5 separate regions of the Homo sapiens genome follow, and regions 1, 2, 3 and 4 are each linked to region 5. The links come from fine-mapping of genetic effects on plasma protein levels. A gene starts in region 5. Each other region holds a variant in brackets. All regions are shown on one strand. Distances are between the middles of the regions. Region 1 has its middle 18 kb from the start of CTSS. Region 2 overlaps POGZ (pogo transposable element derived with ZNF domain). Region 3 overlaps PRPF3 (pre-mRNA processing factor 3). Region 4 overlaps LOC112268239 (a long non-coding RNA gene). Region 5 holds the start of ADAMTSL4 (ADAMTS like 4).

Evidence for each region. PIP is the posterior inclusion probability: the model's chance that the variant is causal. The UK Biobank Pharma Proteomics Project read protein levels with antibody pairs (Olink). The fine-mapping took linkage between variants from a reference panel, not from the people measured, so its PIPs are less certain.
Region 1: its variant is fine-mapped to the plasma level of the ADAMTSL4 protein (UK Biobank, PIP above 0.99).
Region 2: its variant is fine-mapped to the plasma level of the ADAMTSL4 protein (UK Biobank, PIP above 0.99).
Region 3: its variant is fine-mapped to the plasma level of the ADAMTSL4 protein (UK Biobank, PIP above 0.99).
Region 4: its variant is fine-mapped to the plasma level of the ADAMTSL4 protein (UK Biobank, PIP above 0.99).

Annotation. Positions count from the first base shown.
Region 1 is chr1:150,781,012-150,786,283 of GRCh38, reverse strand. It overlaps the pseudogene LOC100132571. Among named protein-coding and RNA genes, the nearest start is that of CTSS, 18 kb to the right of the region's middle. RefSeq lists enhancers at 3,696-4,552, 4,553-5,272. The variant C/A (reference allele first, on the strand shown) is at 2,891.
Region 2 is chr1:151,408,918-151,412,196 of GRCh38, reverse strand. POGZ (pogo transposable element derived with ZNF domain) reads left to right here. Exons shown (of 19, transcript NM_015100.4): 12 at 426-572. Among named protein-coding and RNA genes, the nearest start is that of PSMB4, 11 kb to the right of the region's middle. The variant A/G (reference allele first, on the strand shown) is at 2,828.
Region 3 is chr1:150,333,279-150,338,499 of GRCh38, reverse strand. It overlaps PRPF3 (pre-mRNA processing factor 3), which reads right to left. Exons shown (of 16, transcript NM_004698.4): 7 at 3,259-3,565; 8 at 174-340. Among named protein-coding and RNA genes, the nearest start is that of PRPF3, 14 kb to the right of the region's middle. The variant G/T (reference allele first, on the strand shown) is at 2,217.
Region 4 is chr1:150,633,138-150,638,409 of GRCh38, reverse strand. It overlaps LOC112268239 (a long non-coding RNA gene), which reads right to left. Exons shown (of 2, transcript XR_007066603.1): 2 at 2,684-3,579. Among named protein-coding and RNA genes, the nearest start is that of ENSA, 6.2 kb to the right of the region's middle. RefSeq lists enhancers at 1-374, 1,519-2,143, 2,144-2,769, 2,770-3,395, 3,396-4,021. The variant C/T (reference allele first, on the strand shown) is at 3,099.
Region 5 is chr1:150,545,238-150,550,499 of GRCh38, reverse strand. It overlaps ADAMTSL4 (ADAMTS like 4), which reads right to left and starts at 1,092. Exons shown (of 19, transcript NM_019032.6): 1 at 1,001-1,092; 2 at 605-678. It overlaps LOC124904417, which reads right to left and starts at 210. Exons shown (of 1, transcript XM_047438226.1): 1 at 1-210. The coding sequence starts at 210. ADAMTSL4-AS2 (ADAMTSL4 antisense RNA 2) reads left to right here. Exons shown (of 6, transcript NR_187269.1): 6 at 1,750-1,936. RefSeq lists silencers at 1,222-1,361, 1,532-1,681, 1,613-1,907 and a cis regulatory region at 4,380-5,099.

The DNA.
Region 1 (5,272 bases), 240 kb before region 5:
TCTGCGCTCAGTCTATGTGTCTGCCACAAGGAGCCTCAAAGCCTCAAAGCTTGGTAGAAGCTCAAAAAGTGACATCCAGTTGGGGATAAAGAAAGGCTTTTTTTTTTTTTTGAGACGGAGTTTCACTCTTGTTGCCCAGGCTGGAGTGCAATGTGCGATCTCGGCTCACTGCAACCTCCGACTCCCGGGTTCAAGCAATTCTCCCACCTCAGCCTCCTGAGTAGGTGGGACTACAGGCATGCGCCACCACACCCGGCTAATTTTGTATTTTTAGTAGAGACAGGGTTTCGCCGTGTTGGTCAGGCTGGTCTTGAACTCCTGACCTCAGGTGATCCACCCGCCTCGGCCTCCCAAAGTGCTCGGATTACAGGCGTGAGCCACTGCACCTGGCCGAGAAAGGCTTTTTGTAAGAGCTATTTTCAGAGATGGGCCATTAAGGAGGAGCAGAATTTCAAGCAGCAGAAATGAGAAAAGGAAATTCCAGAAAGAGAGAGGCAACACGATAATTTTGGGAAAGCACTACTTTAAAAACAAGGTTGGTTCACTTCTAGGTCAATGGACAGTTTTGTCCTCTTGAACAAGTTAGCCTCTCAGAAGTTTAACTTCTCCTCTGTAAAATGAGGATAATAATATCTACCTCATAGAGTTGTGAAGATTAAATAATAATGCACAAAGAGTCTAGCACACTCATTGGCATATAATTGGCATCCAATTAATGTTAGCTAGGACTATTAGGATCATTAAGCAAGTCAACAGTGCAGAGGGTGACAAGCATAGATGATCTGGAAATATGAGGAAAACTAGTTGCTTAGAGTATAAGGTTCTTGTGTGAGGATAGCAAAGATGAAACTGCAAAGATAGAGCAATGCTTTTGTTTTGTACAGCATCTGAAATACTGGAATAAGGACTTTGGTTCAAATTAGTAGGCAATATGGAAGTATTGAAGAGTTTTGACACAGAAAATATTTTTGTTTGTTTTTATTTTTTTAGAAGGAAGGTCTTAGTCTGTCACCCAGGCTGGAGTGCAGTGGCAACCTCCTGCGCTCAAGGGATCCTCCTGCCTCAGCTTCTCAAGTAGCTGGGACTACAGGGGTGTACACTGTGTCTGGCTTTTATTTTTTGCAGAGACAGGGTCTCACTATGTTGCCCAGGCTGGTCTTGAGAACTCCTGGCTTCAAGGGATCCTCCCTCCCTTGGCTTCCCAAAATGCTGGGATTAAAGGTGTGAGCCACAGTGCTGAAACAGGAAATAGATCTATAATTATATAATAATATATTTTAAAAATATTATTCCATATCTATATCTATATTTATCTATATCTCTATCTATCTATCTCTATCTATATCTTTTGAGATGGAGTCTCATTCTATCACCCAGGCTGGAGTGCAGTGACATGATCACGACTCACTGCAGCTTTGACTTCCTGGGCTCAAACAATCCTCCTACCTCAGCCTCCAGAGTAGCTGGGACCACAGGCGCATGCCACCACACCCAGCTAAATTTTGTATTTTTTGTAGAGATGGGACCTTGCCATGTTACCCAGGCTGGTCATGAACTCCTGGGCTCAAGCAATCCTCCCGCCTCAGCCTCCCAAAGTGCTGGGATTACAGGCGCGAGCCACTGCACCTGGTCAAAACAGGAAATCTTTTGATCAGAACTCTGCTTTTGGAAAAGCGATGAGGGCTTAGACCTGTGTGGTCGAATGCAGTAGCCATTAACTGCAAGAAGCTATTGAGCACTTGAGATGTGACACTGAAAAGTTCAAATTGAGATGTGCTGTAAGTATAAAATACAAAACTGGATTTTTTTTTCTGAAACAGCTTTTTATTAAATGGCAAAGCAGAATTGCAGCACAATTTAAATGTCTGTAAATTAGGTCACAAAAGGGATGCAAAATGTTTGCAGTTTGAATATTCTAATTCATACAGGTAAAGTCATTCATCAACTCTTACACCAATACATAAGATTATTCCATGATTAAAAGTAGCCCAAATCTAATAACCATAGGCTATATTAGTGGATCTCTTTTCCTATTATAAGATTTTAGCATTACTTCTGATACTGATTTCTTTACCAAATGGAACCTATAAATTTTTAAAATTTGAGGCCAGGCTGGGCGTGGTGGCTCATGCCTGTAATCCCAGCACTTTGGGAGGCCATGGTGGGCAGATCGCTTGAGTCTAGGAGTTTGAGACCAGCCTCGGCCACATGATGAAACCCCGTCGCTACAGAAAATAAAAAAATTAACCAGGTGTGATGGCACGTGCCTTTAGTCCCAGCTACTTGGGAAGCTGAGGTGGGAGAATTGCTTGATCTTGGGAGGCAGAGGTTGCAGTGAGCCGAGATTGTGCCACTACACTCCAGCCTGGATGACAGAGGAAGACCCTGTCTCAAAAAATAAATAAAATAAGATAAAACTTGTTAAAGGATAATAACAAAGGATGACTGCAAATCAAGTAGTTGAGTTGACAGAAAATTCTGAGAGAACAAGTAAGATAAAATACTGAGAAGATTGTCAATAAGCATATATGCGAAACACTCCTATTTCATTCACAATTCTAATACTACTGCACTGCGAAGGAATTTTGCAAAAGTTGATCTGCTGGGTACAAATAAATCTAGAGACCAAACTCTTTGTAACTGTTCTCTTCTAGATGTGGCTTACATAAAGTTAGTCAAACTTAATCCACTTCCGTATATATTTCCCAAAAGATCTACTCTGTGCCAGGGATAACAAAATCTGGAGTGAAAATATTCACAGTTCGTCACTACTGTTTACCAAGTACTTTTTCACCCTATTTCTATTTTTCCTCTAAATTTTGTATTTTAAACATACACTTGACCAACTTATCTTTCCAGATAAGATGAAGTGAGTTACTTTGTGCAAAAA[C/A]AAATTTTTAACAACAAATCTTCCTAAGTTGACAATTCAGCCTCAAAGAAAAATCTTTATTTTTATAGCTTCCCTCTGTTTTAAATGGATTAAAGAGAAACCAGCATTCTTGTCTTAATACTAAATATAAAAAATGACAAGCCCTAGCTGTTTCTCAGATACAGATACTTTCTGTATCTTATTTTGGTTAAGTTTCAACAATTAAAGTGCAGGTTACTCTCTGAGATGATTAACTATTAAAATGACTTTTACAAATGTGAAACCAATTCTTTCCTTCGAGGAAGGTAAAGAGGAAGAGGCAAGTGGAGAAGAGGCATAAGATGACGGACAGGGTACATGAGGCTACGCATTCAGTGTATGATTCCGGTCACTTTTTCACAACGTGTGGTTATTTTTCTTGTATATCTTAGTAAGCCTCTAATAAAAGACAGTGCTAAATCTACAAATCAAGGAAAATTTGATAAAACATTCATCTTTAAGTTTCATAAATATATGCAATTCTTTTTTTTTAAATGCAGTCTCGCTCTGTCACCAAGGCTGGAGTGCAACGGAGCAACCTCAGCTCACTGCAGCCTCCACCTCCCAGGTTCAAGCAATTCCCCTGCCTCGGCCTGCCGAATAGCTGGGATTACAGGCATAAGCCACCACGCCTGGCTAATTATTTTGTATTTTTAGTAGGAATGGGGTTTCACCATGTTGCCAGGCTGGTCTCGAACTCCTGACCTCAGGCAATCCACATGCCTCCGCCTCCCAAAGTTCTGGGATTACAGGCATGTGCCACTGCACCTGGCCAATATGTGCAACTGTAATGATAAAGTTTCTACAATTCATTTGCATGTTTTCCTTTTTTTTTTTTTTAATTTATTTTTTTATTGATAATTCTTGGGTGTTTCTCACAGAGGGGGATTTGGCAGGGTCATGGGACAATAGTGGAGGGAAGGTCAGCAGATAAACAAGTGAACAAAGGTCTCTGGTTTTCCTAGGCAGAGGACCCTGCGGCCTTCCGCAGTGTTTGTGTCCCTGGGTACTTGAGATTAGGGAGTGGTGATGACTCTTAACGAGCATGCTGCCTTCAAGCATCTGTTTAACAAAGCACATCTTGCACCGCCCTTAATCCATTTAACCCTGAGTGGACACAGCACATGTTTCAGAGAGCACAGGGTTGGGGGTAAGGTCACAGATCAACAGGATCCCAAGGCAGAAGAATTTTTCTTAGTACAGAACAAAATGAAAAGTCTCCCATGTCTACTTCTTTCTACACAGACACGGCAACCATCCGATTTCTCAATCTTTTCCCCACCTTTCCCACCTTTCTATTCCACAAAGCCGCCATTGTCATCCTGGCCTGTTCTCAATGAGCGGTTGGGCACACCTCCCAGACAGGGTGGTGGCCGGGCAGAGGGGCTCCTCACTTCCCAGTAGGGGCGGCCGGGCAGAGGCGCCCCTCACCTCCCGGACGGGGCGGCTGGCCGGGCGGGGGGCTGACCCCCCCACCTCCCTCCCGGACGGGGCGGCTGGCCGGGCAGGGGGCTGACCTCCCACCTCCCTCCCGGACGGGGTGGCTGCCGGGCGGAGACGCTCCTCACTTCCCAGATGGGGTGGCTGCCGGGCGGAGAGGCTCCTCACTTCTCAGACGGGGCGGCTGCCGGGCGGAGGGGCTCCTCACTTCTCAGACGTGGCGGCCGGGCAGAGACGCTCCTCACCTCCCAGAGGGGGTCTCGGCCGGGCAGAGGCGCTCCTCACATCCCAGATGGGGCGGCGGGGCAGAGGCGCTCCCCACATCTCAGACGATGGGCGGCCGGGCAGAGACGCTCCTCACTTCCTAGATGTGATGGCGGCCGGGAAGAGGCGCTCCTCACTTCCTAGATGGGATGGCGGCCGGGAAGAGGCGCTCCTCACTTCCTAGATGGGATGGCGGCCGGGAAGAGGCGCTCCTCACTTCCTAGATGGGATGGCGGCCGGGAAGAGGCGCTCCTCACTTCCTAGATGGGATGGCGGCCGGGCGGAGACGCTCCTCACTTTCCAGACTGGGCAGCCAGGCAGAGGGGCTCCTCACATCCCAGACGATGGGCGGCCAGGCAGAGACACTCCTCACTTCCCAGACAGGGTGGCGGCCGGGCAGAGGCTGCAATCTCGGCACTTTGGGAGGCCAAGGCAGGCGGCTGGGAGGTGGAGGTTGTAGCGAGCCGAGATCACACCACTGCACTTCAGCCTGGGCACCATTGAGCACTGAGTGAACGAGACTCCGTCTGCAATCCCGGCACCTCGGGAGGCCGAGGCTGGCGGATCACTTGCGGTTAGGGGCTGGAGACTGGCCCGGCCAACACAGCGAAACCCCGTCTCCACCAAAACCAGTCAGGCGTGGCGGCGCGTGCCTGCAAT
Region 2 (3,279 bases), 860 kb before region 5:
AGTTTAGGAACTCTGAGTAGGTACAGAAGAAATAGTAAACACAGTTTATCTTCAGGGTTTCCATGCAGGAGAAAAACATAAAAGAACATGTCCACAAGTAGACTAGCCGGGAACATGTGCATATTCTAAGGGAGTGTCTGTCTCCTGAACGTGCCCTTTGGAAATTGACAGAAAAGGCTTTATTTTTCTTAGTTAGAGAACATGGATTATTCTTAGACTTTCTGTCCCTTCCTATTTTTAAAGTAATAGCTAAACCTATCACAAACATAGCCCAGCATTACAAAGTCAGGAAAATAATTTGATTTCTATGCATTTGAGAAAACTTTTTTTTTTTAATTTAAAAATTTTTGTTGCTACCTTTTTTTTTAAGGCCTCTCAGTTGTTCACTTCATTCTTAGCCTTATTTTCCCTCCTATGTGACTCAGGTGTGTCAATATCGCTCCTCACTCTACTCTGAGGTAGATGTCCATTTTCGGATGATCCATGAGGATACCCGGCATCTGCTCTGCCCTTATTGCCTGAAGGTCTTCAAAAATGGCAATGCATTCCAACAGCATTACATGAGGCACCAGGTACTAGGCACCAAGCAATTCCCATATTCTCTTGTTTTTTTTTTTTTTAAACATGGATGCTGGGGCCAGGGCTGAGCTAGGCAAATAATTTGGGCAGAGATTATAATATGCATATGTTTGCAGAAATTTATTGAATTCACTTAATGTGCCATGTACTAGTCTAGATGCTAGAGATTTAGTAGTAAACAAGGCAAACAATACAATAAAACATGAAGAGTACTGTGTTGGGGAAATTATAGGATATAGAAAATCACATAGCTATTCTGGGTGCCTAGTAAGGCTTCCAGAAAGAAGTGTTGTTCAATACCTGAGGGATGAATAAGAATGAGCCAGATGAAATAAGACGAAGAACAGTGTGCCCAAGGCACAAAGCAAAATTGTGGAGGTTCAAGAAATTGAGAGAGATTCAGTGTAGGGTGTAAGAGACAGAGGGGTTGGAAGTTAGGCAGGGACAGATCATGGAGGATCTTTTAAGCCATGAAAAGAATTCACTGGGAAGCCACTAAAGGGGTTTTAAGCCCTGGAGTGATGTGTTCAGCTTTAGTTAAGGCTTTATACTGCCTGCACTGCAGAGAATGGATTAAAGGAGATTGAGACTACAGTTAGGGAAACTAGCTAGAAGGCCTTTTTCAGTAGTTTAGGTGAGAGATGATAGTGGCTATTGGCTTTTGAAATAAAAAGAGGGTAGAGTTGAGAGATATTCAGAAGATTTGTGATATTTATGATGTAGAGATGGATTAGGTGAAGGTAGCAATGCAGTAGTTAAGAATAGTGCCTAAGATTCTGTCTTGGGCAGTTGGGTGAATGAGGGAACTATTTGCTGAAATAGAAACAATAGAGAAAGTATATTTGTGAGGGGGGAGATCATGAGCTTGGATATTGTAAGTTAGCAGTATCTGTGGATGTCAAGTGTAGCTGTTGGATAATAGATCTCAAGCCTGTGAGAGAACTCTGGGTTGTAGAAAAGATTTAGGAATCAGCGTTATATAAATCCTATAGATTTTAAACTTAAATACCATGGGCCCCCCAACCCTGTTGAGAATAAGAGAAGGCTTAGGATATTTGAAGTCCCTTATCTATAAAGCAACCACCATAGTACTAGGAGGAAAACCAGAAGAGTCTTAACCTTAAGGAAACTGGGGAGAAGAAAGTGTTTTAAAGAAAAGGGTGTGATCAAAATGTCATATGTTACAGGAAGGTGTCAAGCAACATAGAGACTTAGAAACAGGCCTTTAATTTAGCAACATTGATGAGAGCCATTTTGTTGGTTGGTAGGGTGGAAGTCACATTTCAGCAGAACAAATGAATGAGAGGTAAGGAAATGAAGACGATGTATTTAAAGAAGTTTATTTATAAAAAGGGAGGACCCAGGGTAGGTAAATCCAGAGGAAGAAGTGGCAAAGAAGAGTTTTTTATTGCTTTTATTTTCCTTATAAGATGAAAAGCTATGACTTCGTTTTAAAATACTACAAGAAGAGAGCCACTAGAGGAGAGTGAAAGGTATATAGTATATAAGAGAGGATTCAAAATGGAGAATAAGATGAGTGCATGTGTGCTTAATAGTCACATACATATGCACACAAACATATGTACCCTATTACACTCATAGTCTCCTTTGCACAGTAGTGACTGCTGATTGTCTACCACAACTGTATTTCCAAATAGGGGCATGGAAATTGTCTCTTAGCCTAAGCTTACAGAGCTTTGTTATCCTACTAAAGAAAATCATAGACATGGGTTCTATTTTTGAAGGACTTCAATACTAGGCAGACTGAATCCTCAAAGTGGTCTCACCAGGAGACATATCTGTATATACTGATGTGTTAAGTGAGAAAACAGCAAGGTATAGACAAGTGCTATCATTTGTGTTAAAAGGAGAAAAAGAAGAGGGCTGAGGTGGGAGGATCACTTGAGCCCAGGAGGTGGAGTCCAGCCTGGGCAACATGGTGAGACAACATCTCTACAAAAAGGAAAGGGAAAAAAGTAAGGGCCAGGCACAGTGATGCACGCCTGTAATCCCAACACTTTGGGAGGCCAAGGCAGGTAGATCACTTGAACCCAGGAGTTGAAGACCAGCCTGGGCAACATGGTGACACCCCGTCTCTACAAAAAAATACAAAAAGTAGCCGGGCGTGGTGGCACGTGCCTGTAGTCCCAGCTACTTGGGACGTGCAGTGAGCTATGAACATGCCACTGCACTCCAGCCTGGGCTACAGAGAGAGACCCTGTCTCAAAAAAAGGGGGCGAGGCAGGTA[A/G]TGATTGGATATGAATGTATTTGTGATACAGTTATATGTGTAGACTGCCCACGAAAGCATACTCAGGAAACTGGTAATAAGTTGTTTGTATGGAAGGGGACTGAGTGTTGGAGTTGAAAGCAAAGTTGGAAGAGTATAGAAAAAAAAGTATGACTTTAGTTTACTATGTACATTGTCCTTTTTTAAAAAAAGAAGAATGAAGAATGTCCAGAAGAATGTCCAGTTGTCAGCAGTGTAAAGATATAATACAAATAAAGGTTACATCACTCATTCAAATTGTTAAAACAAGTCAGGAAAGGATGATTTGAGAACTTAGTCATCCTGGACTAGAATCCATCTTTCTTTGATATCATGGGAGGTGATGATTCTCAATGGTAGGTTTTGTGGTCATGTTGCATATTTCTTTCTTACTCTCTTAAATTATCAACAGAAAGGTGGGAAGAATGATATGG
Region 3 (5,221 bases), 210 kb after region 5:
ATAACAGGACCTTGTGTACAGTTACTTATCTCTCTTGGATTTAAAAATTTTAATTAATGAATGAGTACCATCCTTCCCACTAAAACCATAGCTTTACTAAAAGGTATTAACTTGAGTCTTAAACTCAGCTGATTAAAAACTGTTTTTTTAAAAAGGTACTAAAACAAACTCACAGATCAAAGCCATTGGGGATTATGTAAGAGTCCCACCACTCAATTTCAGGAATATCTCCTTCCTTTAGCTCCTTCTTAGGAGCAATGAGGGCAAGCCTAGTCGAAGTATGGATGCCTGTTTTTCGAGCTGCTTGTGAAATCTCTGCCTGTAGCTTCTCCAGTTGAGCCTAAAAACAAGATAATCCAAGACAGAAAGATAAATTGGAGTCATAGAAAACAGAATGTGTAGAATCTCAATTTTTTTTTTTTTTTGAGACGGAGTTTCGTTCTTCTTGCCCAGGCTGGAGTGCAATGGCATGGTCTTGGCTAACAGCAACCTCTACCTTCCAGGTTTAAGCGATTCTCCTGCCTAAGCCTCCTCAGTAGCTGGGATTACAGGCATGTGCCACCACCCTCAGCTAATTTTGTATTTTTAGTAGAGATGGGGTTTCTCCACGTTGCTCAGCCTGGTCTCAAACTCCCGACCTCAGGTGATCTGCCCGCCTCGGCCTCCCAAAGTGATGGGATTACAGGCATGAGCCACTGTGCCCGGCCAGAATCCCAAATATTTTTTTTTTTTTTTGTAGACGGAGTCTCACTCTGTCACCCAGGCTGCAGTGCAGTGCAGTGTAAGCTCCACCTCCCGGGTTCACGCCATTCTCCTGACTCAGCCTCCCGAGTAGCTGGGACTACAGGCGCCCATCACCACGCCCGGCTCATTTTTTTGTATTTTTAGTAGAGAAGTGGTTTCACCATGTTAGCCAGGATGGTCTCGATCTCCTGACCTAGTGATTCGCCCACCTCGGCCAAGAATCCCAAATTTTAAAACACTTCCCCGTTGAACTCTTTACACCTAACGCAACAAGTTCATAATTTCTGAAAGCTTAGAAAGGAGTTGTTCTGCTTTATTTTATCCTTTATTTAGTTCATATACATAGATCTCACCTTCAACCCCTCCCTGCACTCCACAGTATATGCCTGCAGTAAATACGCAGAAATAGAATTTTATGGCCGGGTGTGGTGGCTCACGCCTGTAATCCCAGCACTTTGAGAGGCCGAGGCGGGAGGATCATGAGGTCAGGAGATCGAGACCATCCTGGCTAACACGGTGAAACCCCGTCTCTACTAAAAATACAAAAAAATTAGCCGGGCGTGGTGGCGGGCGCCTATAGTCCCAGCTACTCAGCAGGCTGAGGCAGGAGAATGGCATGAACCTGGAAGGCGGAGCTTTCAGTGAGCTGAGATCGTGCCACTGCACTGCAGCCTGGGTGACAGAGCGAGACTCCGTCTCAAAAAAAAAAAAAAAAGGAATTTTATGAAAACCTCACTTTGAGAGGATAAAAAGGCGGCAAAGGTCATTCAATATACAATCAATTCAACTCTCCAGGTGTACTGTCTCATTAAATTTTAACTACAGGCAAGCCTTCCTTAGTCACTCAGAATGTTTCAAATTGTTTCCCTCCACTTAGTTGTATGTGGAGAATTTTCAAACTCAATTTCATAATATTTCCACTTATGTAGAAACGAATTAGGAAGTAAAATCTGCTAAAAAAATTATGTATTATATTAATAAATATATATATATATTTTTTGAGACGGAGTTTCGCTCTTTTGCCCATGCTGGAGTGCAGTGGTGCGATCTCAGCTCACTGCAACCTCTGCCTTCCAGTTTCAAGTGATTCTCCTGACTCAGCCTCCCAAGTAGCTAGGATTACAGGCACCCACCACCACGCTCGGTTAATTTTTGTACTTTTAGTAGAGACGGGGTTTCACCATGTTGGGCAGGCTGGTCTTGAACTCCTGACCTCGTGATCCACCCACCTCGGCCTCCCAAAGCGCTGGGATTACAGGCTTGAGCCATCTTGTCCAGCACATTTTTCAAAGTATTCATTGCTTTAAATCAGGGGTCCCCAACCCAACAGTCTTTTAGGAACTGGGCTGCACAACAGGAGGTGAGCAGCAGGCAAGCCAACAGTCTCATCTGTACTTACGATTGCTCCCTATTACCTGCATTATGGCCTGAGCTCCACCTCCTGTCAGATCATCGGTGGCATGAGATTCTCA[G/T]AGGAGCGCGAACCCTATTGTGAACTGTACATGTGAGGGGGCTATGTTGCACATTCCTTATGAGAATCTAATGCCTGATGATCTGTCACTGTCTCCCATCACACCCAAATGGGACCATTTCAGCAGGAAAACAAGCTCAAGGCTCCCAGTGATTTTATATTATGGTGAGTTATATAATTATTTCATCATATATTACAATAAAATAATAATAGAAATAGGCCAGCACAGTGGCTCACGCCTATAATCCCAGCACTTTGGGAGGTCAAGGCAGGCAGATCACAAGGTCAGGAGTTTAAGACCAGCCGGGCCAACATAGTGAAACCCTGTCTCTACTAAAAATACAAAAAATTCGTCAGGCATGGCGGCGCATGCCTGCAGTCCCAGCTACTCAGGAGGCTGAGGCAGGAGAATTGCTTGAACCCAGGAGGCAGAGGTTGCAGTGAGCTGAGACTGTACCACTGCACTCCAGCCCAGGTAACAGTGCAAGACTCCATCCCCCTCCCCGCCCAAAAAAAAAAAAGGCGGGGGCGGTGGCTCACGCCTGTAATCCCAGCACTTTGGGAGGACAAAGTGGGCAGATCACCTGAGGTCAGGAGTTCGAGACCAGCCTGACCAACACGGAGAAACCCCGTCTCCACCAAAAATACAAAATTAGCCAGGCGTGGTGGCACATGCCTGTGATCCCAGCTACTCGGGAGGCTGAGGCAGGAGAATCACTTGAACCTGGGAGGCAAAGGTTGCAGCAAGCCGAGATCGCCCCATTGCACTCCAGCCTGGGCAACAAGAGCGACACTCCATCTCGAAAAAAATAATAATAATAAAGTACACAATAAATGCTATGTGCTTGAACCATCACGAAACCATCCTTACTCCAGGGGAAAAATTATCTTCCATGAAACAAGTCCCTGGTGCCAAAAAGGTTGAGGACTGCTGCTTTAAATGACCTATTTATCTAATTTCCTAGAACACAGAGATTTAACAATGTTTTCTTGTCAGCTTCTTAACTTTTTCCAAATTCTGTGTTATACTCTAAGCCAGATACCTTTGTCCGTAATCGCTGAGCAATCTTCTCAAATTTGCCCTTGTCATGGAATTTAAAAGTGCGTCTCTGGCGCTGGGAAGGGGCAATGGAGACTCGGGGGTCAAAAAAGGTATTGGATTCCATGTCTTCTGATGGCTTTTCCTTTAGTTGTTGCTTGAATTGTTCCCTCTTCACAGCACGAATATTGGCTTTCAGAGTAGGCATGCGGTGTGTCAGCTCAATCTCCTTGCCTGTTGCATCTACAGTGCGCCCTTGCTCATCCAGGATCAGTGGTGTAGGTTTCGTTTGGTCTTTTAACTCCACCTTCCTGAAAAATAGCCCGCAAAGAAATAAATCCTGTATGGAACATTAAGGCAAGCAAAAAACAAAATAAAGCCAGGCGTGGTGGCTCAAGCCTGGAACCACAGCATTTTGGGAGGCCAAGGCAGAGGGATCACTTGAGCCCAGGAGTTAAAGACCAGTCTGGCCAACACAAGGAGACTGCATCTCAACAAAAAATTTAAAATTAGCTGGGTGCGGTGGCATATACCTGTGGTCCCACCTACTCAGGAGGTTGAGGAGGATCACTTGAGCCCAGGAAGTTGAGGCTGCAGTGCCTTCTCTATAAGAGTTATTTGGATGGACGGGTGTGGTGGCTCACACTGTAATCCCAGCACTTTGGGAGGCTGAGGCGGGTGGATGGCTTGAGCCCAGGAGTTCAAGACCAGCCTTGGCAACACAGTGAAACCCCATCTCTACAAAAAATACAAAATTTAGACGGGCACTTGTAGTCCCAGCTACTGAACCTGGGAGGCAGAGGTTGCAGGGAGCCGAGATCACTGCACTCCAGCCTGGGTGACAGAGTGAGACTCCCTCTCAACAACAACAACAACAAAAAGGACAATAAAATAATTCTAGGGAACAATCTCATCAGTGAGCAATACCATCTTTTTTTTTGAGACATGGTCTCACTCTGCTGCCCAGGCTAAAGTACAGTGGCACAATCACAGCTCATTGCAACCTCAACCTCCCAGGCCCAAAGAAATTCTCCCACCTCAGCCTCCTAAGTAGCTGGAACTACACGCATGCTCTACCATGCCTGGCTAATTTTTGTATATTTTAGAGAGATGGGGTTTTGCCATGTTGCCTAGGCTGGTCTTGAACTCCTGAGCTCAAGCAATCTGCCAGTCTCGGCCTCCCAAAGTGCTGGGATTACAGGTGTGAGCCACCGCGCCCTGCCAATAGTATCTTGATTAAAAATATCAAAGTGGATATTTCAGTATACAGGACAACCAAATGAAATGAGTTTATAAATTATATGAATTTATAATCCTATCTTTCCTTATCCCTGAATTCTTATGTCACTCATGGGATGCCAGACCAACTGTAGATGCTAAAAAAAATGTAACATCTTTGACCAGTTGCAGAGGAACCTCAGATCTAGTCTCACACAATGTGGTTTAATGGATAAATCTGAGTTTGAAACCAGGAAGGAAACCTGGCTATACTCCTAGCTCCAACATTAGATGAATAACCTTAATCTCAGTTATATAAATCATAAGAAGATAATAAACCCTCCAACAGGGAAGACGAGAAAAAATTCAACTGGTTAATCAATCACACCTAAGAAATATGAAACTGTGAGAAATGATCTAGGTTCTGTGGAAAAAGAGGATCAGTAATATTTTGTTTGTTGTTTTCTTTGAGCCGGAGTCTCCCTCTGTCACCCACGCAGTGGCACGATCTCAGCTCACTGCAACCTCTGCCTCCTGTGTTCAAGCGATTCTCCTGCCTCAGCCTCCCGAGTAGCTGGGATTACAGGCATGCACCACCACGCCTGGCTAATTTTTGTATTTTTAGTAGAGATGGGTTTTCACCATATTGGCCAGGCTGGTCTCGAACTCCTGACTCCTGACCTCAGGTGATCCACCTACCTCAGCCTCCCAAAGTGCTACGATTACAGGCCTGAGGCACTGCGCCCAGC
Region 4 (5,272 bases), 88 kb before region 5:
ACAGGCATGAGCCACCGCACCTGGCCTCTCTTTTAGTTATTTTTTAATGAACAATTATTTTTTACTATAGTCACCCTGTTGTGATAGCAAATACTAGATCTTACTTTTCTTTCTATATTTTGTGTACCCATTAACCATCCCCTCTTTACCCGCATCGCAAAGAATGCATTTCAATCGGGTATATATACCTAGGAGAGGGATTGCAAGGTCATGGGTTTTGGATTATGTACAGCTTTAGTATATATTGCCACCAGCTTTCCAAAGTATGTTGTACCAATTTATACCCCAACCAGCCATACTGCAGGTCTTTGGAACTGTCAAGTCATATATTTATGAGCATATGATTGTGCTGAGCAGAAGTCTGGATAAATAAAAGCCACTGTTAATTCCTGTGACCTTGCTTTAATTTTATAGAAACTGAGCTGCATTGGTTGGTTTCAGGGGATCTATGTACATCCTAAAATACGTATAATATTGCATGTATGTATTTGTGCTTAAGCACATTTGGGGGACAGAAGAACCATAGTTTATACCAGATTCTCAAAGATCAGATTTGGAAAAACTGGTGGCAATATATACTAAAGTAAACATAATGCAATACTTTACGCACACCACCCCCACCCCAACAAAAAAAAAGTTAAAAAGCTTAATAATGACTGCTTTATGGGAGTCCAACAATCAAGAAGCTATTATTACTCAGGAATACTTTGCTTGTTATTAGCAAATACTGTTCCAGGTTGGTGGTGGTCTGTTGACACAGACACCCAGTCCAAACAGCCAGGTTTCCTGTGGTTAACAGAGAAGGATTAGAACTCTTGACTACTTAATTTTCCTTTTATTTCTAGTAGGTTAAAATCTTTTATTAAAATAGCTTCTGGTGTGGGGGGGAATAGCTTCATAATGCTTTTTATAATTATATATTTTCAATAACTATATTTTTAGAATAGATTCATTGCGATTATAATTCACATACCATACAGTATACCCATTTAAAGTGAATAGTGGTCAGGTGCAGTGGCTCACGCCTGTAATCCCAGCACTTTGGGAGGCCGAGGCGGGTGAATCGCCTAAGGTCAGGAGTTCAAGACCAGCCTGGCCCATATGGTGATACCCCATCTCTACTAAAAATACAAAAAGTAGCCGGACGTGGTGGCGGGCGCCTGTAATCCCAGCTACTCCGGAGGCTGAGGCAGGAGAATGGCTTGAACCTGGGAGGCAGAGGTTGCAGTGAGCTGAGATCGTGCCACTGCACTCCACCCGCCTCAGCCTCCTGAAGTGCTGGGATTACAGGCTTAAGGTACTGCGCCTGACCATTTATTTTTATTAACAAATAATATTCCAATGTATGGATATACCATAGTTTATCCATCAATTGATGGACCTGGTAACTATTTTAAATTATGTCTGTATAGAATATAATGTGTCCATAGCAAAATCTATATTTTCCCTCCTAAACCTTCTACTTAAGGCCTCCCCGTCTCAGTAAACAATGTTATCATTCACCTAGTTGCTCAGACCCAAAACTTTGAAATCATCCTTGAGTCTGCAAATGCTGTTGGTGGTACCTTTAAAATAGATCCCACATCTAGCCATTTTCAACCATCTCCATAGCTACTACACCCTAGTCCAAGTCACTGTCATCTCTTACCTGAACTATTGTAAAAGCCTAATTGGTTTCCTGCTACTACTTCCACTCTGGGTCCCCATGGAGCAGCGGAAGGATCAGTTTAATACCTAAATGATTTTGTGTCAGTCCCCTCCTCAACACCATCTGATGGGTGCCCATTACACAAAAAATAAAATCCAAGTTCTTACCATGACCTAAGAAGCCAAAAACAATCTCATCCCTGCCTGCATCTCTTCTCTTATTCCGGCTCTTAGCTACATTGACCTTCTTGCTGTTTCTCAAATACACCAAAAATATGCTTTTGCTTTAGGAGCTTTGGATTTGCTCTTCCCTCTGCCTGAACCAGTTTCCCTCCAGATAACTGTTGGCTCACTCCCCAACCAGATTTCTGCTCAGATACCTCAGGTCTTCCCCCAATCACCCGATCTATGGCCCAAAGTGGTGGCTCACACCTGTAATCCCAGCACTTTGGGAGGCAGATGGATCACTTAACGTCAGGAGTTCAAGACCAGCCTGGCCAACATGGTGAAACCCCGTCTCTACTAAAAATACAAAAATTACTATATATATACCTCTTCCCGCCCAGTCACAAATAGAATAATCTGGGCCCCAGACATTGTGCTAGTTTTTGTGAAACCTCACTCATATTTTACAGGCTGAAAGTTCCACCCTTCCTAATGCTCAGTAATTTAGCTATATCAAGGATAAATGGGCTGGGCACGGTGACTCATGCCTGTAATCTCAGAACTTTGGGAGGCCCAGATGGGTGGATCACCTGAGGTCAGGAGTTCAAGACCAACCTGGCCAACAGGGTGAAACCCCGCCTCTACTAAAAACACAAAAATTAGCCAGACATGGTGGCGCGCACCTGCAATCCCAGCTACTCAGGAGGCTGAGTGAAGGGGTGGCCTGCCCCTCCACACTTGTGGGCATTTCTTGTCAGGTGGAATGAGAGACTTAAGAAAAGAAGGAGACACAGAGACAAAGTATAGAGAAAGAAAAGTGGGCTTAGGGAAGTGGCGCTCAGCATACAGTGGACCCGCACCGGCACCAGTCTCTGAGTTCCCTCAGTATTTATTGATCATTATTGGGCGTTTCTCGGAGAGGGGGATGTGGCAGGACAATAGGGTAATAGTGGAGAGAAGGTCAGCAGGAAAACATGTGAACAAACGTCTCCGCATCATAAACAAGGTAAAGAAAAAAGTGCTGTGCTTTTGATGTGCATACACATAAACATCTCAATGCCTTAAAGAGCAGTATTGCTGCCAGCATGTCCCACATCCAGCCCTAAGGCGGTTTTCCCCATCTCAGTAGATGGAACATACAATCGGGTTTTACACCGAGACATCCCATTGCCCAGGGACGAGCAGGAGACAGATGCCTTCCTCTTATCTCAACTGCAAAGAGGCCTTCCTTCCTCTTTTACTAATCCTCCTCAGCACAGACCCTTTACGGGTGTTGGGCTGGGGGA[C/T]GGTCAGGTCTTTCCCGGCCAGCATATTTCAGACTATCACATGGGGAGAAACCTTGGACAATACCTGGCTTTCCTAGGCAGAGGTCCCTGCGGCCTTCCGCAGCGTATTGTCTCTGGGTACTTGAGATTAGGGAGTGATGATGACTCTTAACAAGCATGCTGCCTTCAAGCATTTGTTTAACAAAGCACATCCTGCACAGCCCTTAATCCATTTAACCCTGAGTTGACACAGCACGTGTTTCAGGGAGCACAGGGTTGGGGGTAGGGTTACAGATTAACAGCATCTCAAGGCAGAATAATTTTTCTTAGTACAGAACAAAATGGAGTCTCTTATGTCTACTTCTTTCTACACAGACACAGTAACAGTCTGATCTCTCTTTTCCCCACATTTCCCCATTTCCTTTTCGACAAACCACCATCATCATCATGGCTTGTTCTCGATGGTCGCTGTCTCTTCGGAGCTGCTGGGTACACCTGCAGACTAACAACAGATAAAACAGGCACACAAGGATTAATACGAAATTTATAATAGTAGTACTTCCGATGGTCTTAACCCAAGTGACAGGGTTAAGATTTGCGAGGCCATCAGTCACTCCTGCGATTGCCTCAGTTTCTGGTACCAAATTTAAATGGGCTTTTGATGCTTCGAAAATTGGTTCTCTATCTTAAGAGGAGACTCAGACTTAAATAGTAAGAGAATATTAACCCCAGAGGCAATAAAAGAAATTAAATTAGTGGAACAAAAAATTCAGTCAGTGCAAATAAATAGAATAGATCCCTTAGCCCCACTCCAACTTTTGGTTTTTGCTACTGCACATTCTCCAACAGGCATCACTGTTCAAAATACTGATCTTGTGGAGTGGTCATTCCTTCCTCACAGTACAATTAAGACTTTTACATTGTACTTGGATCAAATAGCTACATTAATTGGTCAGGCAAGATTACAAATAATAAAATTGTGTGTAAATGACCCAGACAAAATAGTTGTCCCTTGAACCAAGGAACAAGTTAGACAAGCCTTTATCAATTCTGGTGCATGGCAGATTGGTCTTGCTAATTTTGTGGGAATTATTGATCATCATTACCCAAAAACAAAAATCTTCCAGTTTTTAAAATTAACTACTTGGATTCTACCTAAAATTACCAGACGTGAACCTTTAGAAAATGCTCTGACAGTGTTTACTGATGGTTCCAGCAATGGAAAAGCGGCTTACACAGGGCCAAAAGAGCAAGTAATCAAAACTCAATATCAATTGGCTCGAAGGGCAGAGTTGGTTGCAGTCATTACAGTGTTACAAGATTTTGATCAACCTATCAATATTGTATCAGATTCTGCATATGTAGTACAGGCTACAAGGGATGTAAAGACAGCTCTAATTAAATATAGCATGGATGATCAGTTAAACCAGCTATTCAATTTATTACAACAAACTGTAAGAAAAAGAAATTTCCCATTTTATATTACTCATATTCGAGCACACACTAATTTACCAGGGCCTTTGACTAAAGCAAATGAACCAGCTGACTTACTGGTATCATCTGCATTCATAAAAGCACAAAAATTTCATGCTTTGACTCATGTAAATGCAGCAGGATTAAAAAACAAATTTGATGTCACATGGAAACAGGCAAAAGATATTGTACGACATTGCACCCAGTGTCAAGTCCTACACCTGCCCACTCAAGAGGCAGGAGTTAATCCCAGGGGTCTGTGTCCTAATGCATTACGGCAAATGGATGTCACGCATGTACCTTCATTTGGAAGATTATTATATGTTCATGTAACAGTTGATACTTATTCACATTTCATATGGGCAACCTGCCAGACAGGAGAAAGTACTTCCCATGTTAAAAAACATTTATTACCTTGTTTTGCTGTAATGAGAGTTCCAGAAAAAATTAAAACTGACAATGGGGCAGGATACTGTAGTAAAGCTTTCCAAAAATTCTTAAGTCAGTGGAAAATTTCACATACAACAGGAATTCCTTATAATTCCCAAGGACAGGCCATAGTTGAAAGAACTAATAGAACACTCAAAACTCAATTAGTTAAATAAAAAGAAGGGGGAGACAGTAAGGAATGTACCACGCCTCAGATGCAACTTAATCTAGCACTTTATATTTTTTAAACATTTATAGAAATCAGACTACTACTTCTGCAGAACAACATCTTA
Region 5 (5,262 bases):
CCCTCTCCACGGGTCTACCCAGTACACATAATCCCATCCCGAGCTGGGTTTGGCTTTGGCAGTTCCCTGGAGAAGTGAGGGGTGGGGGTGACGTGAGCTCCCGGGGCCCGGGCCAGGCCTGGCTCCCTCTCTGGAAAAGTCCCACCCCACCCTCCCCTGCGCAGCCCGGCAGGGGCCCATGCCCCCTCCTCTGCAGAAACACACGCACATTTATGCTTCTCACCCCTTTCCATGTCCCTCATTTGGTGTCGTTCCCGGCCCAGGACGAGGAAAGGAGAGGTCAGAGGTGGTCACTCTGGTGCCAGAGTAGACCCTGGTCTGGACAAACGCGGGCTCCTCCTGGCCACACCTCTCCACACTGCCCAGTGAAGACCAAGGAACAGAGACCTGCGCAGGGCTCACCCCTTCACCCCCAGGTCTCCCTGCTGGAGAGTGGTTGGACCCTGTGTTTCTGGGCCTAGCCATGGAGAATCCCTGTCCTGAGTCCGAATTCCCGGGCCCTCAGAGCCCTCCACTCCTGGGTCTGGCAGGCCACCCCAACAGGTGTCTTTCTTTTTTGTCAACCTCTTCTGCCATCGGGCTGAGCTGGATCAAGGGCACCCACCTGCGTCCCTCGCGGCGACCCTGTCCTCCAAGTTCAGGAGTGCAGTGGGGGACACACCGTCCGAGAGCACCCTCCTAGAGAGAGGGCAGGAGGCACCGGCCGCGCGGGGAGGTCATGGGTCTGTTTTCCAACTTTACTATGTGACTTAGGAGGAATTTTGGTTCACTCCCCGCCCGGGTGATGGGGCCAGAGTTCCACGGGATCAGACTCCCTCCCCAGGAATTCGACCCCAGGGGCTGGAAGATTGTCCGAGGCCACCGGAGCTGGGTCCGGGGTCGTGGCGGGGTCGCGACCGCACAGCGCAGGGAGAGGGGACGACGCGGGCGCGCGGGGCGGGCGGTCTAACGGGACCCGGGAGAGGGGCGGCCGGGGCCGGGGTCCCGGGGAGGTCTCTACCTGCTCTGCGAGCCCCCGGTGGCCCGTTAACCCTTCTGCGCCCAGGCGCTCTCTCCAGGCAACCTCGCTCCGCGGCGGCCACTGGGGCCCCTGAGCCGCGCTCCGGTCACGGCCGCCTCGGCCGCAACTCCGCCCTCGCGCCCGCCCCCGCCCAGCCCCGCCCGCCACGCGCCCCAGCCCGCGCCCCTCGGCGGCCCCGGGGTGGGGCCGGTCTGCCTCGCAGCCCCACTCGCCAGGACCACCCACCCCGGGCTGCGCGCCGGGCGCCCCCCGACGGCTGCGTGAGCTGAAGCCCGGGCTGGCCCAGCCGGGGTCGGAGGCTGCAGTCGCTCCCGGGCGCTGTCCTCGTGCCCGGCCGAGACTAGGGACTTAAGCAGCCCGGGCTGGCCCAGCCGGGGTCAGAGGCTGCAGTCGCTCCCGGGCGCTGTCCTCGTGCCCGGCTGAGACTAGGGACTTAAGCAACCCGGGCCTCCGAGCCGCTCGGGTGAGCGGTGCGAACACGGCGCGGCGCGGCGCGGCACAGGCGGGGCAGCCTCCAGGGGCGCCTGGAGCGAGGCGGCCTGGGAGAGCCGCTGGTCCGGGAGGGAAGCGCCCTGGACGGAGGTACCCGCGGCCCCCGATCCGCGTGGGTCCAGGCTCTCCCCTCCACGCAGCCTCCCCTGCAAACTCAGTCACTCCTGCCTCTCCCGTGTTGGGCAGTGGTGGTTCAGATTGCTGGGACTTCTATGAGCTTCGGTTTTTTTCCTCAGTAAGGTTTTACACTCGGGACTCAGCGAAAGGACAGCGTGCTGACTTCTGAGTCAGACTGATCTGGATTTGAACCTCAGCTCCAGCTCTTGCCAGCTATGTGGTCTTCGACGAATACTTCCACCCCTGTGTGGTGCAGTTTGCTCATCTGCAAAATGGGACTAATCTAATATATATGATGGGCTTGGATATGTCTCTTTATGCATTTATACATGGAAGAATGCACCCCAAACTCAGTAGTATTGGTGACATCTGGGGAGGGATGCAGGGTTGGGGGAGGACTGAAAAAGGCTTTTGCTTTTTACTCTGCGTTATGTTTATTATTATTATATTATTATTTATTTATTTTTTTTGAGACGGAGTCTCACTCTGTCGTCCAGGCTGGAGTGCAGTGGTGCTATCTTGGCTCACTGCAAGCTCCGCCTCCCAGGTTCACGCCATTCTCCTGCCCTAGCCTCCTGAGTAGCTGGGACTACAGGCGTCTGCCACCACGCCCGGCTAATTTTTTGTATTTTTAGTAGAGACGGGGTTTCATCGTGTTAGCCAGAATGGTCTCGATCTCCTGACCTCGTGATCCGTCCGCCTCGGCCTCCCAAAGTGCTGGGATTACAGGCGTGAGCCACCGCACCCAGCTATGTAATGTTATTTTTGTGAATTTTTTTAACCACAAGAGCAATCCATCTATTAGTTTTATCTTTTTTTTTTCTTTTTTTTTTTGAGATGGAGTTTCACTCTTGTTGCCCAGGCTGGAGTGCAGTGGCGCGATCTCGGCTCACTGCAACCTCCGCCTCCCAGGTTCAAGTGATTCTCCTGCCTCAGCCTCCCAAGTAGCTGGGATTAGAGGCATGCGCCACCATGCCTGGCTTATTTTATATTTTTTAGTAGAGACGGGATTTCTCCATGTTAGTCAGGCTAGCCTCCAACTCCCGACCTCAAGTGATCCTCCTGCCTCGGCCTCCCAAAGTTCTGGGATTATAGGCGTGAGCCACCGCGCCTGGCTATTATTTATTATAAATAATATATGTAAGCTGGGCATGGTGGTGAAAGCCTGTAGTCCTAGCTACTCAGGAGGCTGAGCGGGGAGGATTGCTTGAGCCCAGGAGTTTGAGGCTGCAGTGAACTATGATCGTGCCACTGCACTCCAGCCCCTGCGACAGAGAGAGACCTCGTCTCAAAAAATAAACACATAAATAAATAAAATATGTAAAATGGCTGGCATAGAGTAGACAATAAATGGTCACTGCTATTTTTATATTTTACTTTTTTTTTTTTGAGAAGGAGTCTTGTCCTGTCACCCAGGCTGGAGTGCAATGGCGCCATCTCAGCTCACTGCAACCTCTGCCTCCTGGGTTCAAGCCATTCTCCTGCCTCAGCCTCCTGAGTAGGTGGGATTGCAGGCACGAGCCACCACGCCTGGCTAATTTTTTGTATCTTTAGTAGAGATGGGGTTTCACCATGTTGGCCAGGCTGGTCTCGAACTCCTGACCTCATGATCCGTCCGCCTCAGCCTCCCAAAGTGCTGGGATTACAGACATGAGCCACTGCTCCCGGCCTATATTTTTACTTTCTATTTACTGACGCGTTGTATTTTGTTGGGTCTACTCAGTGTTTTAAAGGTTTTTGTTTGTTTGTTTTTTGTTTTTAAGACAGGCTAGTTTCAAACTCCTGGGCTCAAGAAATCCTCCTTCCTTGGGCTCCTAAAATGCCGGGATTACATGTGTGAGCCACTGGGCCCAACCTAAAGGCACATTTTTTTTTTTTAAATAACTTGTCAATACGTATTTTAAAACCTGGATATTTTAAAATTTCTCTTGAAAAACTAAAACACAAAAATAGAAGCTCTAACAACATTGTCCTGCATCCTCACAAAATATCAGAGGTCTTTGGTTCCCCACCTGTCATTTTTTGGGCGCCTTTTGCACTTGGTGTTGAAGAAGCAGCAAGAAGTCTCTGGCCTCAAGGAGTTGGGTCTGATCAGGCACAGACACGGCAGGTAATGGGGTCATGCGAAGGTTAATACTGGGCTCAGCTGAAGGAGATGTTATCTCTAAGAAGATGATGGATATGAAAACGTAAAATGCTTTCAAAATGTAGGAATTGGGCCGGGCGCGGTGGCTCATGCCTGCAATCCCAGCACCTTCGGAGGCCAAGGCGGGCGGATCATCTGAGGTCAGGAGTTCAAGACCAGCCTAGCCAACATGGCGAAACCCCATCTCTACTAAAAATACAAAAATTAGCCGGGTGTGGTGGTGGGCGTTTGTAATCCCAGCTACTCAGGAGGCTGAGACAGGGAGAATTGCTTGAACCTGGCAGGCGGAGGTTGCATTGAGCTGAGATCATGCCACTGCACTCCAGCTTAGGTGACAGAGCGAGACTCTGCCTCAAAAAAATAAAGAAAAGAAAAGAAAATGTAAGAATTGTGTCCCGAGCTGGGTACAATTGCAGGCACCTGTAGTCCTGGCGATTCGGGAGGCTGAAGTGGGAGGATCACTTGAGGCCAAGAGTTCAAGTCCAGCCTGGGCAACATGGCAAGACCCCATATCTAAAAAAAAAAAAAGAAGAAGAAAAAAGAAAGGAGAAAAAGAATTGTATCATTATTTGAAATTTAACATGCATATTTTTTCTCGGTAAATCACTAAGTTCTTTCAGAATAAAGGACTATTTATGCTACTTTGTATCATCTATACTTTTTCCTATTTTATATTAGAGTTTTGTTTTTTTGATAAGTCACTGAAACAACAACAACAACTTGAAAACACGAAGTACACCACGAAACATGAAGCGGGTCAGATTGACCTGCGCCTCTGGGAGGTGCCTCTCCTCATCCTCCATCTGAGTCCTGAGTTCCTACATGGGTTGAGAAGATAAAAGGTTAATGCCCCTCCCAGAGGGGTGGTTTATCTAGGGACTCCTGGTGACAACCTGGAGACATATTTATAGTGCTAGCTTTGAAGGGGAAGCCCCTTTCCCCAGACCTCAGAGTATGATATAGATGATGAGAAGCCCAGCCTTCCGGGCAGAGGAAGATATTTTGGGCCAGGGACCCTTCAGTCCTGGCCCAGTCACACCTCATCAGCATTCACTTATCTACAGGGAGGGAAGCTGCAGGACAGGAGTGTGGGAGGGGAGCCTGGGAGGAGAGAAAAGGTCTGCCTTTGACATTTGTAACTGCTGAGAACTGAAGGTCAGATACAGTCCTTTCCACTAAGAAATGGCTGCTCACCGAAGAGCTCATGAGATTTGCTACTGCTGTCACCTCTCATGGCTTGGTGGTCTGAAAATATTGTAGAAAGAAAAGAGTTTCCTATGCCTCAGCAACTTGTGAAATACCAGATTAAGTTTGTGGACACTGTCTCCAGGATAAAAAGTTTTTAGGCTGGGTGCGGTGTCTCACACCTGTAATCCCAGCACTTTGGGAGGCTGAGGTGGGTAGATTGCTTAAGCCCAGGAATTTGACACCAGCCTGGGCAACATAGCAAGACCCTGTCTCAAAAATAAACAAATACATAAATAAT